Regions from separate parts of the Homo sapiens genome. Here region 2 is linked to region 1. A link means that fine-mapping ties the variant in region 1 to the expression of a gene that starts in the linked region. Tissue or cell type: whole blood. Region 1 holds a variant in brackets; the other region holds the start of a gene. All regions are shown on one strand. Distances are between the middles of the regions.

Region 1 (6,040 bases):
CTATTTATCATTGAATAAAGGATTGAAAGTGGTCCTAACAGGCAACTGCTCCCATCTATCATACTCTGAAGGACTATGAAGGCTTATAACTTGCCCAGAGTTAAGGAAATAGACATGACAGTACAAATAGCTATTTAATAAATATTTGTCTATCTATAGTGGGTATTTTCTGTATCATTTGTTATGAAAATTAAGTATTTAAGACTTGGAGGCCTTGACAAATAAAGTTCAATTACTGCTGTCATGTATTCATGTGTAATGTACCTTTGAGAATTCCCAACAATTCCATTGGATTAAAAAAACAAAAAACTTTATTTTAGACATATGAAGTAGTATGACACGTTTAACATAAGAATGAACAGTTTACATACCAGGACTTCTTGAATCCCTCAAGCAGGTAGGAGATTCCATATGAAGCAGGGCTTCAGCAGCTTCAATTGTCTTATCTGTACAGTGTGCATTACTGCTGTGAACTGATGCTTCCACTGGAGGAAAAATAAGTTCTACTCAATTAAAAATACACTAAACACATGACTAAAACATATTACTAAGAAATAAACATATTCACTCCTGAAAGAGAAATGAAAAATAAATAAATATAAAATAACATGACTAACTCTAAGCCATTGATATCTATTCGTCTATATAAATTACAGAAATAATTTTTAAAAAGCTAATATCTACATTTTATAAAATGAATACTGATATAAAATGAATATTGATTATGAAGTAACCAATGACATTGATTAGAAATTACTGAGAAGTTGGCCAGGCATGGTGGTTCATGCCTGTAATCCCAGCACTCTGGGAGGCCAAGGAGGGTAGACCTTGGTCAGGAGTTGAAGACCAGCCTGACCAACATGGTGAAACCCCGTCTCTACCAAAAAATAGAAAAATTAGCTGAGCGTGGTGGCACATGCCTGTAATCCCAGCTACTCAAGAGGCTGAGGCTGGAGAATCGCTTGAACCCAGGAGGTAGAGGTTGCAGTGAGCTGAGATCGCACCACTGCGCTCCAGCCTGGGCGACAGAGTGAGACTCTGTCTCAAAACAACAACAACAAAAGAAATTACTGAGAAGTTTCTGAATCTTACTCAAAGGAAAACAAAGAAAGATCCTTGAAATTTGAACCCTGCATCAATTTTAGGCCAATACTAACTTGTGGGAAGGGAGGAAGGGTCAGGGAGAGGCTGGTTGTAGATTAAAAACCCTGTGAGGGCAATTATATATTTTGATGTATTGCCATTAAAGCCAGGGCACCTAACAGAACCATGCTGCGCTAATTTAATCAATTAATTCAATTCTTACAGACCCTCTTGAATGACTGAGTAGAGTAAGCCCTCCGTGTCCAAGGGTTCCGCATCAGCAGAGTCAAACAACCTCAGATTGAAAATATTGCAGGGGGGCCGGGTGTGGTGGCTCACACCTGTAAGCACTTTGAGAGGCCAAGGCGTGCGGATCACGAGGTCAAGAGATCGAGACCATCCTGACAAACATGGTGAAACTCCATCTCTATCAAAAACATAAAAATTAGCCGGGCGTGGTGGCGGGCACCTGTAGTCCCAGCTACTCAGGAGGCTGAGGCAGGAGAATCGCTTGAACCTGGGAGGCGGAGGTTGCAGTGAGCCAAGATCACACCATTGCACTCCAGCCTGGGCGACAGAGTGAGACACTGTCTCAAAAAAAAAAAACAAAAAGAAAATATTGCAGGGGAGGGGGAGGCAATAAAAAAAATACAACAATTAAAAATACAGTGTAAATACTACAGCATTTTGTATAAGGGACTTGACTGAGCATTCTAGGATTTTGGTATCTGCCAGGTGGAGGAGACATCCTGGAACCAATACCCCAGGTATACTGAGGGACAACTGTACTCTCCAGGCAGAGGTGACTAAAGATGGATAACAACATGCATTATATTTACTGCCAGAGTACTTGAGAACTTTCTTTATAATTAACCTCGCTCTCTTCAGAGCCTCAGTGGGTTTTAACCTAAGACTTTTTCTTAGAGTTTATTCTTCCCATGAGGCCTTCAAATTCTACCACGCTTTGTATCTCTCCTCTTCTAGCACTTCCTTTATGCTTTGCTGATTATGTTACTTGTAAAACAATGTGTACAGCAGTCAGTGGTTTGGGCTTTCAGGTCCAACAGCTTGGGTTCCAGTCTCTGCCACTTATTTCTGTTACCTGAGGTAAGCAACTTAATCTCTCTCATAGAGCAAGAATATGATAATTTCTTATCATTCCTGTAAGATTATAAACTTCTTGAGGTCTGGGGGGCTAGCTTAACCCATCTTTACATATGCCATGGTTCCCAACATAGACTTTTCATGGAGCAGACATGCGGATTTTTATTTTTATTTTTTTTGAGACGGAGTCTCGCTCTGTTGCCCAGGCTGGAGTGCAGTGGCATGATCTAGCTCACTGCAACCTCCACCTCTCAGGTTCAAGCGATTCTTCTGCCTCAGCCTCCTGAGTAGCTGGGATTACAGGCACATGCCACCATACCGGATTAATTTTTGTATTTTAGTAGAGACGGGGTTTCACCATGTTGGCCAGGCTGGTTTTGAACTCCTGACCTCAGGTGATACACCCGCCTCGGCCTCTCAAAGTGCTGGGATTACAGGCATGAGCCATCACGCCAGGCAGGTATTTATTTTATGTACTGAATTAAGGACAACCCACTGACCTTACAAGAAAATCAGCAATTCAAGAACAAATTTTATTATCTTAATAATATATTAATTTCACATCCTGACTTAAAATGTTGAACAGTTAACTTAGTAAGACGTTCTGAAACATGAATATTTAAGAGTCTCTAACTTGACAGATTTTTTTTAAGATGTCCCCTAAAGGAACTAAAAGTAAATGTTTATACAAATTTCATAAAGTCATATTACAAATTCATAAGCACTATACACTAACGATATGAATCTTTTAAAATTGTTTCCAGGAAACTTTTAATTGGGGGAAAAAATCCAGTTCATCTCAAAGTTCCCTAAATGCTAAAGCCTCAGTCTTAAACAACAGTCATTTGGAAAGCATTTATTTTAAAAATCCAATGACTGTTTTACCACCTGTTGCACATCATCCACAAGGTACTGGGTCTCTCCAGTTGCTCTTTCCATTTATGGAAATCTGTTCAAAGCTAAATGGTTCCAGAGAGGCAGCCAAACCTCTAAGTAAATCTATCTTTAGGTGACCCTGCTTACTCTTATCTGCAGCTTCACTGAAGCAAAGGATTCAATCAGCCTGTGTAGCTCAACTTTAAGAAAACTTAGCATTATTAAGTATAAGACATATTATCATTCTCAATTATTGTTTTCAAAGTGCCTCCCTACAATACTCACATACACTAAGAAAAAAAAAAAACCTTCAATTCTCCAGTTTTTAAAATTTATTCTAGCAAGCATTCTCTTTAAAGTCTGCTTGTG[T/C]TGCAATTTAGCTCTTGTCTTAGGTGCTATTAATAAACTATCCTGGGCAAACTAATTCCTTATGTAATTGTATTAAGACACACCCTAAAACTTTACCATATTAAAATCAGAGCTTCAAGTATTCAATAATAATACAGCAAGAGAATTTTACCAGTTTTTTTAATGTTTCAAGTTATAAACAAAATGAAATTTGCCTAACAGTTACATATTACGTGCCCTGAATTCTTACATAGTTTGAGGCACATTTTCAAAACCATGATTTTGTGTTATTAAAATTGTTATGTCAATGGAAATTACTTCTTCAAGGTGTAATTCTTGCACATATTTCTGACCTCAACTTCCCCTTCCCCCCTAAAATTCAACATATTATATCTCAGAAATATTTTATATTTACAGAGTAAAATACATACTTAGAAAATTTACTCATTCATACTTTAAATTTACGATGACAACATAAAATATGCATAAATTACCTATGAAGTTATCAGCCAGAAGATCTAATACTCTACGTACAACTGACAAATCGTTGCTGACATTTACCATGTGCCCAGACCCTGTGCTATAAACCTGACACAAGTGTGAACAGATTTCTGGCCTCATGAAGCTTATACTACTATAGGTTGGGCATGCCTTATCCAAAATGCTTAGGACCAGAAGTGTTTCAGATTTCGAATTTAAAAAAATATATATCTGCACTATATATTTCCAGTGGAACATCCCAAATCTAAAAATCCAAAATGCTTTAATGAGCACTTCGAGTGTCACATCAGTGCTCAGTTTCAGATTTTAGAACACTCAATCTACAGTTCAGAGAGCATTAAATGGAAGATATTTCAAAACTAAATAAAAATGTAAAATAAACTTACTTTGTAAGTTACAAGCATGTTAAGAGGAACACTGATTACTTTTTTACTGCTTACTAATTTTATCTCATCATTTTTATTTACTAACTAAAATAATGCAAAATACAAAAATCTAAGAGGCTGTTCTCAGATCAATTTACAATAATGTACTAATGCCAGTTTCCAAAACTTAACACATTTTGTAAAAGTGAGCACTATCTTTTTATTTTTGTTTACATAAGTCAAGTAACTTTTAACAGAAATTTAAGAAATATTTCTCCTACTTGTGTCTGTAATTAAAAAAAAAATACTATTTTGTTCAGATCAATAATTCAAATAAAATTTAAACTATAATTTTGCACATTTAAGAATAAGCATGAATTTAACAGTGTTGTGCAATCAAAGTAAGCAAGCTACAAGCAAGAGCTGAAAAGTAGAATTCCTTATCTTACTTAAAACTTGACTTACTGGTATCTTTCTACATCTATGAAATTTATAGAAGGAAAAATAAATAACTCATTTTAAAAATAGAAACAATGAAGCTAAAAGTAGTCTGACAGGTATCATTTTCTAGTTACCACTGGTAGTGGCTATTGCTGGTCAATCCCCCTTGAAATAAATTTCAAGAACTGTTTTACTTTTTATTACAGTACCAAAAATAATATTTGCTTGTACCTTCATTTAATATTGGTAAATATCTTCTTGTTCCATTTCTATCTTTCTAATCAACCGGTGTTTGTATGGTACTGAAGACTATTCCAGACTCACTCAACAGCTGTTACAAAATACCAAACTTGGTAATTAAGTCTGACAAGAGGCATACCTCTCAGCTTTGCATAAAAGAATGCTGGCAATGGATCTAGTTCATAAAAATGTTCTCAAGTCAAAAATAAAATTTAGTAGCAATTTAGTTTGAGAGCAGTGAAAAAAAATTAGAAAACACTTCATTAGGTGATAGTGGTATTCTCCTATAAGCAACACTATAAACTAATAGTACAAGGTCTTCAGTCAACTGCAGCACCCGATTTACCACTACTTATCCTCTAATGCCCCAAAGCTATACCAGTAATAGGTAAATGAAGAATACAAATGAAGGCAATAAAAAGGGGGAAAAGGTAATTAAAGGTCTGGAATACTCCATCTTCACCTTTTCCCCCTTGACCTTTTAATCAATATACTTGCATTATAAAGTATAAAAAGGAAAAAGAATGGCAATTCTTTTTTTTTTTTTTTTACACTCTCGGAGGGGGAGAGCGAACTGCCCTCTGCAAGATGAGATCAGCCAGAAATTAAGTTTAAATTAATTAAAATTAAAAATTGAGTTTCTTAGCTACATTTTAAGTACTCAGATACATGCGGCTAGTGGCTACCATACAGTACAGACCTAAACAACACTGTAATTCAGCTATCCTCCGACCTTTTTTATCTGAGGACACTTTTACACTCAAAATACTGAAGACCTCGAGATTTTATCTGTATTTATCATATTTGAAATTACAAAGAAAACTTCAAAATTATTAATTCATTTAAAATAATACACCCATTACTGCAACCATAAATAACATTTTTTATGAAAAATAACTGTTTTTTGAGACAAGGTCTCGCTTTGTTGCTCAGGTTGGAATGCAGTGGCATGATCATGGTTCACTGTAGCTTAGATCTCCTGGGGTGTGATCCTCCTACCTCAGCGTCTCAAGTAGATGAGACCACAGGCACGCATCAGCACACCCAGCTAATTTTTTGATTTTTTTTTTTAGAGACGAGGG
Region 2 (6,040 bases), 380 kb after region 1:
GAGCTGTTTCTGAGTAAGACAAGTTACGAAATGGGCACTGTCATCAGGAGGTGGCATATCTAGTTAAAAAAAAAATTCAGAAATTGAGTAGTCTTATTTTGTATATAAGATTATCCTTATGCTATTCTGTTTTCTACTTTTTTTTTTTTTTTTGAGACACAGTCTTGTTCTTGTCCCCGAGGCTGAAGTGCAATGGCATGATCTTGGCTCACTGCAACCTCTGTCTCCCAGGTTCAAGCGATTCTCCTGTCTCAGCCTCCTGAATAGCTGGGATTAAAGGCACCTGGCACCACGACTGGCTAATTTTTGTATTTTTAGTACAGATGGGGTTTCGCCACGTTGGCCAGGCTGGTCTCAACTCTTGACCTCATGATCCACCCTCCTCGGCCTCCCAAAGTGCTGGGATTACAGGTGTAAGCCACTGCACCCAGCCTGTTTACTTTTATGTTTTAGAGATGGGGGTCTCGCTGTGCTACCCAGGCTGGAGTGCAGCAGTGCAACTATAGCTCACTGCAGACTTGAACTCCTGGGCTCAAGAGATCCTCCAGCCTCAGCCTCCTGAGTAGCAGGAAGTAGAGGTGTACACAACCACACCCACTTTTTTTTTTTTTTTTTTTTTTTTTTGGAGACAGGAGGTCTCACTCTGTTGCCCAGGTTGGAGTGCAGTTTTGCGATTTCAGCTCACTGCAACCTCCACCTCCCTGGTTCAAGCGATTCTCCCACCTCAGCCTCCCGAGTATCCGGGATTACAGGCATGTGCCACCACACCTGGCTGATTTTTGTATTTTTTGGTAGAGACGAGGTTTCACCATGTTGGCCAGGCTGGTCTCAAATTCCTGGCCTCCAGCAGTGCTCCTGTCTTGGCCTCCCAAAGCGTTGGGATTATAGGCATGAGCCACCACACCCAGGTACTACTGTGTGATTTTAATATCCAATGTTTTTTCTTCTATTACAAAAGTATCTTTACATACTTATCTTACCCTAAGCCATTGAAATTGTTCCATTTTAAGTTGTACTGACAAAGGATCCAAATTTACAGTTTCTGCTCAGCTGTGTAGCAAAGTATTAAGGAAAGGGTTACATGTTCACACTTTGAGGCCAAGTGGTAGTGACTCCAAGGACAAAATGAACAGTCAAAAAACAGGGCTGTATAATCCATCCATTCTTTCCAACAGTAGAATTTCCTCCAATTATCAATTCTGGAGATTCTGGGGTTATTCAATTAAGAAGAGTAGCACATACTTCAGTCACATGAGGACACTCTCAAAATACAAGTTGAAAATACAAAACTCCTCATAACAATGTCAAGTGCCAACAATGATTTTTAAAATTTAAGTAGGGCTGAACTGTGTGTAACTGGTGAAATGTTCAAGTTAACAATCCTTACACACGAAATCTCTCACTTCACTGACTTAATTCATTATTTGCTGAATAAACAATAAACTTCCAGTCAGTAGTCAAGAGTTGGCAATCTAGCTGGTAGGACATAACATATAATCATGAAACAGCAAAAACAGTATTCAAAGATTAAATTAGCAATACCCCAAAATGTGTGTTAGAGTTAGCATAAAGAATTTCTGATGTAGTTTACCAAGAGCTAAACTAAAAAGTCCAGAATACAAAAAACAGGGATGCAATGATGTTAGTTTTTTTCACCATCCTTGAAATTCTCCCATTAACCACAGCTCTGAGTTTTCAACTGCTCTTTGTCCTTAAATCTTCAGATTCCCTCCTTTGAATGGGATAGGTAGAGCAGATTAGAAGAAATATATTCCGAGGCTCTCTAATAGTTTCTGGATGATTAACCTTCATGAAAATAACCTCACAGATAAGTAATTAGGATTTTTCAGCCCATTTCTATAAACTAAGTAAACTTTTTTTCTAGTGAACATAACTTGATATATTAGTGACTGTAGAAAGTCTTTCTACAGCAACAGGAATTATATCAAGGCTTTTGCAAATTCCTGGCAACTCCGGGCATGTTTAAGTTCTACTACTCATCTGTTCTGACTATATTTTCATCTGATGGAATAAGCAGTTCATCTCCTTTCCTAGAACTTTTAGTGCTCTACTGTCCCCCTCACTTTAGTTAAGGTCTGCCATGTCCTCCTCTCCGACAGTCCTTGACTTTCCCAATGGCATATTCATCTGCTCAAACAGATGTCACTGCAAAACAAAACAAACTTTTAACAAAAAGCAATGTTTGCATATTTGGGGCCTTTTGTATGACAATATTGCACGTTTCCTCAGAAAAATTCACGGAGATTCTTTAAGGTTGGGGGTTTAATCTATTGATATTTTCCTTAGGTAGACAAAGACAACCTCTAAGTGCGCTCAGTTAATCTTTAACCGCTACATCATCGTCACCCAGGCACTAAGACATAACTAGGGCATAATGAGTTTTATTTCCACCAGGGGCGCCTAGTAACTACCAGGTTCAACGCTCCCAGGTGGCCGACATGTGATGTGCTCTACTGTTTGGGCTGGGGATATTAGCTCAACAAACTCTGGCCACAAGGATCACGCGGATATTCTTGGGGATGCCTAGCGAAATGCGCTGTACCTAGGCCTCGAACTCTCGCCTGCTCTCCGGTGGGCGGTCTCGAACTCCAGCCTGCTCTCCGGCAGCCCACAGCAATGCGCCTGCCAAGACCTTAGGCTGCAAAACTCGCCACGGCCCAGAGCTCGCCTCCAAGTGCGCCCCGCACAGGGCAAGCTTTCGGCGAGGACTCGCGTCCCACCCATCTAGCCCTGGCCGCTGTCCCAACTCCCGCAGTTCACAGAGGCGGCGGCGGTGAGCGCAGCCGATGCCACATCCTCAGCGGCAAGCTGAAGAAACCTGTCTCCTCTCTGGGGCGACCAAACGATACGTCGATGCCGGAACCGACCCGACGCCGGAGCCGTCGGCTCCGTCCTTACCGTTGCTCTCCAGGTACACGCCCCCGTCAAAGGCGGCTCTGCGGCCCTCTCGCGAGAGAGTGCCCGTGGTACCTCCTTCCTCTCAGTTGTCTGTCTCTCCCCGCCCCCGGAGTGATTGCGCGGCTTCCTCCAGAGGGCGGGAACCTTGGACGTGGCGGGGCTGGGTCAGTCAGGGCGCTGGGCCCAGCCTCTCTGCAGGCTGGCCTTCCGCGCTGCCGTGAAGCCCCCGACAGGTCCCACGCCTGCCTAGGTAGACCGGCGCCAGCCCGAGTGACGCCTGGCGTGTGGCCGCGGGCAGGCGGCTCCGTGCGGCGGGGCGGGCGGGTGCCACACCTGTGCGGGCAAGGGCGGGGCGGGAAGGTGCGCAGGCGCGCTCGGGGCTGGTGGGCGGTGGCTCCTGGGAAGTTGCGCAGCCGAACTGGCCGGCTGGGCGCGCGCTCTTGCGGTGGCGTAATCTCTCAGCCTTTCTGTGTCTCCTTTCCTCCGCCTCAGTTTGGGGCGGGTCGGGGGAATGGCTGAGGAGATGGAGTCGTCGCTCGAGGCAAGCTTTTCGTCCAGCGGGGCAGTGTCAGGGGCCTCAGGGTTTTTGCCTCCTGCCCGCTCCCGCATCTTCAAGATAATCGTGATCGGCGACTCCAATGTGGGCAAGACATGCCTGACCTACCGCTTCTGCGCTGGCCGCTTCCCCGACCGCACCGAGGCCACGATAGGGGTGGATTTCCGAGAACGAGCGGTGGAGATTGATGGGGAGCGCATCAAGGTGAGCGGATGGGGAACTGTTGGGGAGGACAGGGTGACAGGTGTCCCAACCCCACCGTGGGCTGGTCGCTGGCCGTGTGCACGGTGTGTGTGCGCTCCATTTTTTTCTCACGCTGATGAGATTGGAGTTGGGGATTGGAAGGATTGCAATACTGCAAACTTCTAAGGCAGCGTTTCTCAGACTTCATTGTGCATGCGATTTACCTGGGGATCTTGTTTTTGAAAATGCAGGCTATGATTTAATAATCTCGCTGATGATGCAGGTGCAGCTAGTCCGTGGACCACACTTTGAGTTCAGGAGTGTAGGGCTTATCTACCGACCCATTTACTGTGTGTGTCGTGTGCTGGGAGTCAGTCAAATATGAACGGAGGAAAAACAGTGAAATTGCGCGAGAATGGAAAATTCATTTAATCAGTAATAGTTATTAAACATTCATTCGAGCAGTGCCTTAGATGTTGTGGAAGTAAAGCCTATTGCCTTTGAGGAAGTACTTAGGTATTCTCTTGCATACAGTTTTGCTGTAGTAGTTTCTTTATGATACTGATTTTAGAAAAATCTATTTTCCTGCAGAAACATTCTATATGTGATAGTTCCTACTCAGGTTGCCAAAAGCATTTCTCATGATGCCACCTCAGACACACGCCCAATTCTTTATTCCCTTTAAGTCGTTATTTTTGGTCCCTGGGACTGGGGACACTGAGTGACAGTAATAGTGGAGAAGGTAGTATAGGCCCCAGGGCAGGTTTGAAGTTCTGAGGGGTTGGAATCTAACAGTGGAATGAGGATCAATGACAAGGCTTAGGCCTCTTGATGGTATAAACCTTAGACACACCTTCATAGCAAGCCACCACTAAATGCCACCTGTTGATGCCACTCCTTAAAACATAGGTGGAACCACCTTGCCTTATACTACTGCTTTAAATCAGCGATCGTCTTTATCTCAGTCTCTTGGTGGGGATGGGGAGTGGTGGGAGAACAGGCTTGCTTTAGACGTTCCTACCCTCGTATCTTAGAGGCAAGAACAATTTATTTTTCAGTTCCCTAATCATCGCCCCCCACCCCAACGGGTTATACTGCTAATGATGGTAGAGGTGAAGTAAGCTGGGTTAAAAGAAATTAACCTTTCTTTGGTGCTTCTGTCTTTTAATTTTTCACATTAGTATTTCATGTCCCATATGAGCTCTCAGTGGTGGTTTTGGAGTTGCTTTGTATTAGGGAATTTAGAAAGATTTGTATACTTGCAGAAGAAAAGATAGAATAAAAGGCTAAACATTTTTCACCAGAATTAGGTTTGGCCCAGAAGCCTTTGGGGTGAAAAATAATGGAGCTTCTGAAGTTCCAAGGGAGTTAAGATTGGGAGAAGCAGGAATCTGGGAAGTACGTGGGCTTTGGAGCCCAACTAACCTGGATTCATATCTGAACCTACGAAAGGGTAGGGATGGGCTGCGTGTCCTTACTAGGGTGACCAACTTTGCCCAAGACTGTCCAGGTTTTAAAACTGGGTCTCACATCCCGGGGACCCCCTGTATTGGGCACACCAAAATAGTTGGTCACCCTGGACCTTAGGCAGATTCTTTAACCTCTCAGAGTCTGTATTTTTCTTCCGAAAAACTGGGATCATGATACCTTATCAGGCTGCTGTGAGGATCAGATGAGGACATATATGAAGCACCTGGTTCATAGTTGGTGCCTTTAAAAAGATTCTTTGTCTTTCCTGGTGGCTTAACATTATTTTTCCTGTTTGCCACCATTAGTTCTGCAGTTGTACACCCAAAGTTGAAAGCAGAGATAGTGGAGGGCATAGGTAGACAGCTAAGGGGAGAGAAATTTAAAAAACAAAACAAAAACAAAAACGGAAGTAGGAAATTCTTTCAAAAGTGGAGAGAATGAGGGTGGGGGAGGAGTTGGGATTTGAGGGCCCTTTATCTGTTCCTGGGTTGCCATTTATACTTAAAGATAACAGATGAATCAGGTGCAAATTTAAGAGATAATAGTATTGAAAAAATATAAAGCATGTGCAGTGTATAAAGTCAATTACCTAACTACTGAGGTGAGTGCTGGCAGTGATAAATAAGACAGAACCACAGGTATGACGAATCTGGGAGCACAGAGTTGATAATTCTGGTTGGGAAGAGCAAGGAGATGATATTTTTTGGGGAGATTATTTCTACTGAACTTTAGCCTAACTTGTTACATTGATATGGACTTGAATACTGAGATCATTTTTCTTCTAAGGCCCTAGCCGTTGATTTGTGCCACCAATGGTGAGACTTGAGAGAGATTTTTATTGTGGTTGAAATGACTACAGACATGTTCTGAGGTTTCTATAGTAGGAAAAGATATAGCTATGTTGGGCATTTT

The links. PIP is the estimated chance that this variant, and not a neighbour inherited with it, causes the effect.
Region 2: RAB33B-AS1 starts here. The variant in region 1 is fine-mapped to the expression of RAB33B-AS1 in whole blood (TOPMed, PIP above 0.99).

Annotation. Positions count from the first base shown.
Region 1 is chr4:139,073,083-139,079,122 of GRCh38, forward strand. It overlaps ELF2 (E74 like ETS transcription factor 2), which reads right to left. Exons shown (of 10, transcript NM_001331036.3): 5 at 372-485. Among named protein-coding and RNA genes, the nearest start is that of NOCT, 60 kb to the left of the region's middle. The variant T/C (reference allele first, on the strand shown) is at 3,433.
Region 2 is chr4:139,450,766-139,456,805 of GRCh38, forward strand. RAB33B-AS1 (RAB33B antisense RNA 1) reads right to left here and starts at 3,276. Exons shown (of 1, transcript NR_159964.1): 1 at 910-3,276. It overlaps RAB33B (RAB33B, member RAS oncogene family), which reads left to right and starts at 3,356. Exons shown (of 2, transcript NM_031296.3): 1 at 3,356-3,679. The coding sequence starts at 3,431. RefSeq lists enhancers at 2,644-2,983, 3,604-3,653 and a silencer at 3,054-3,383.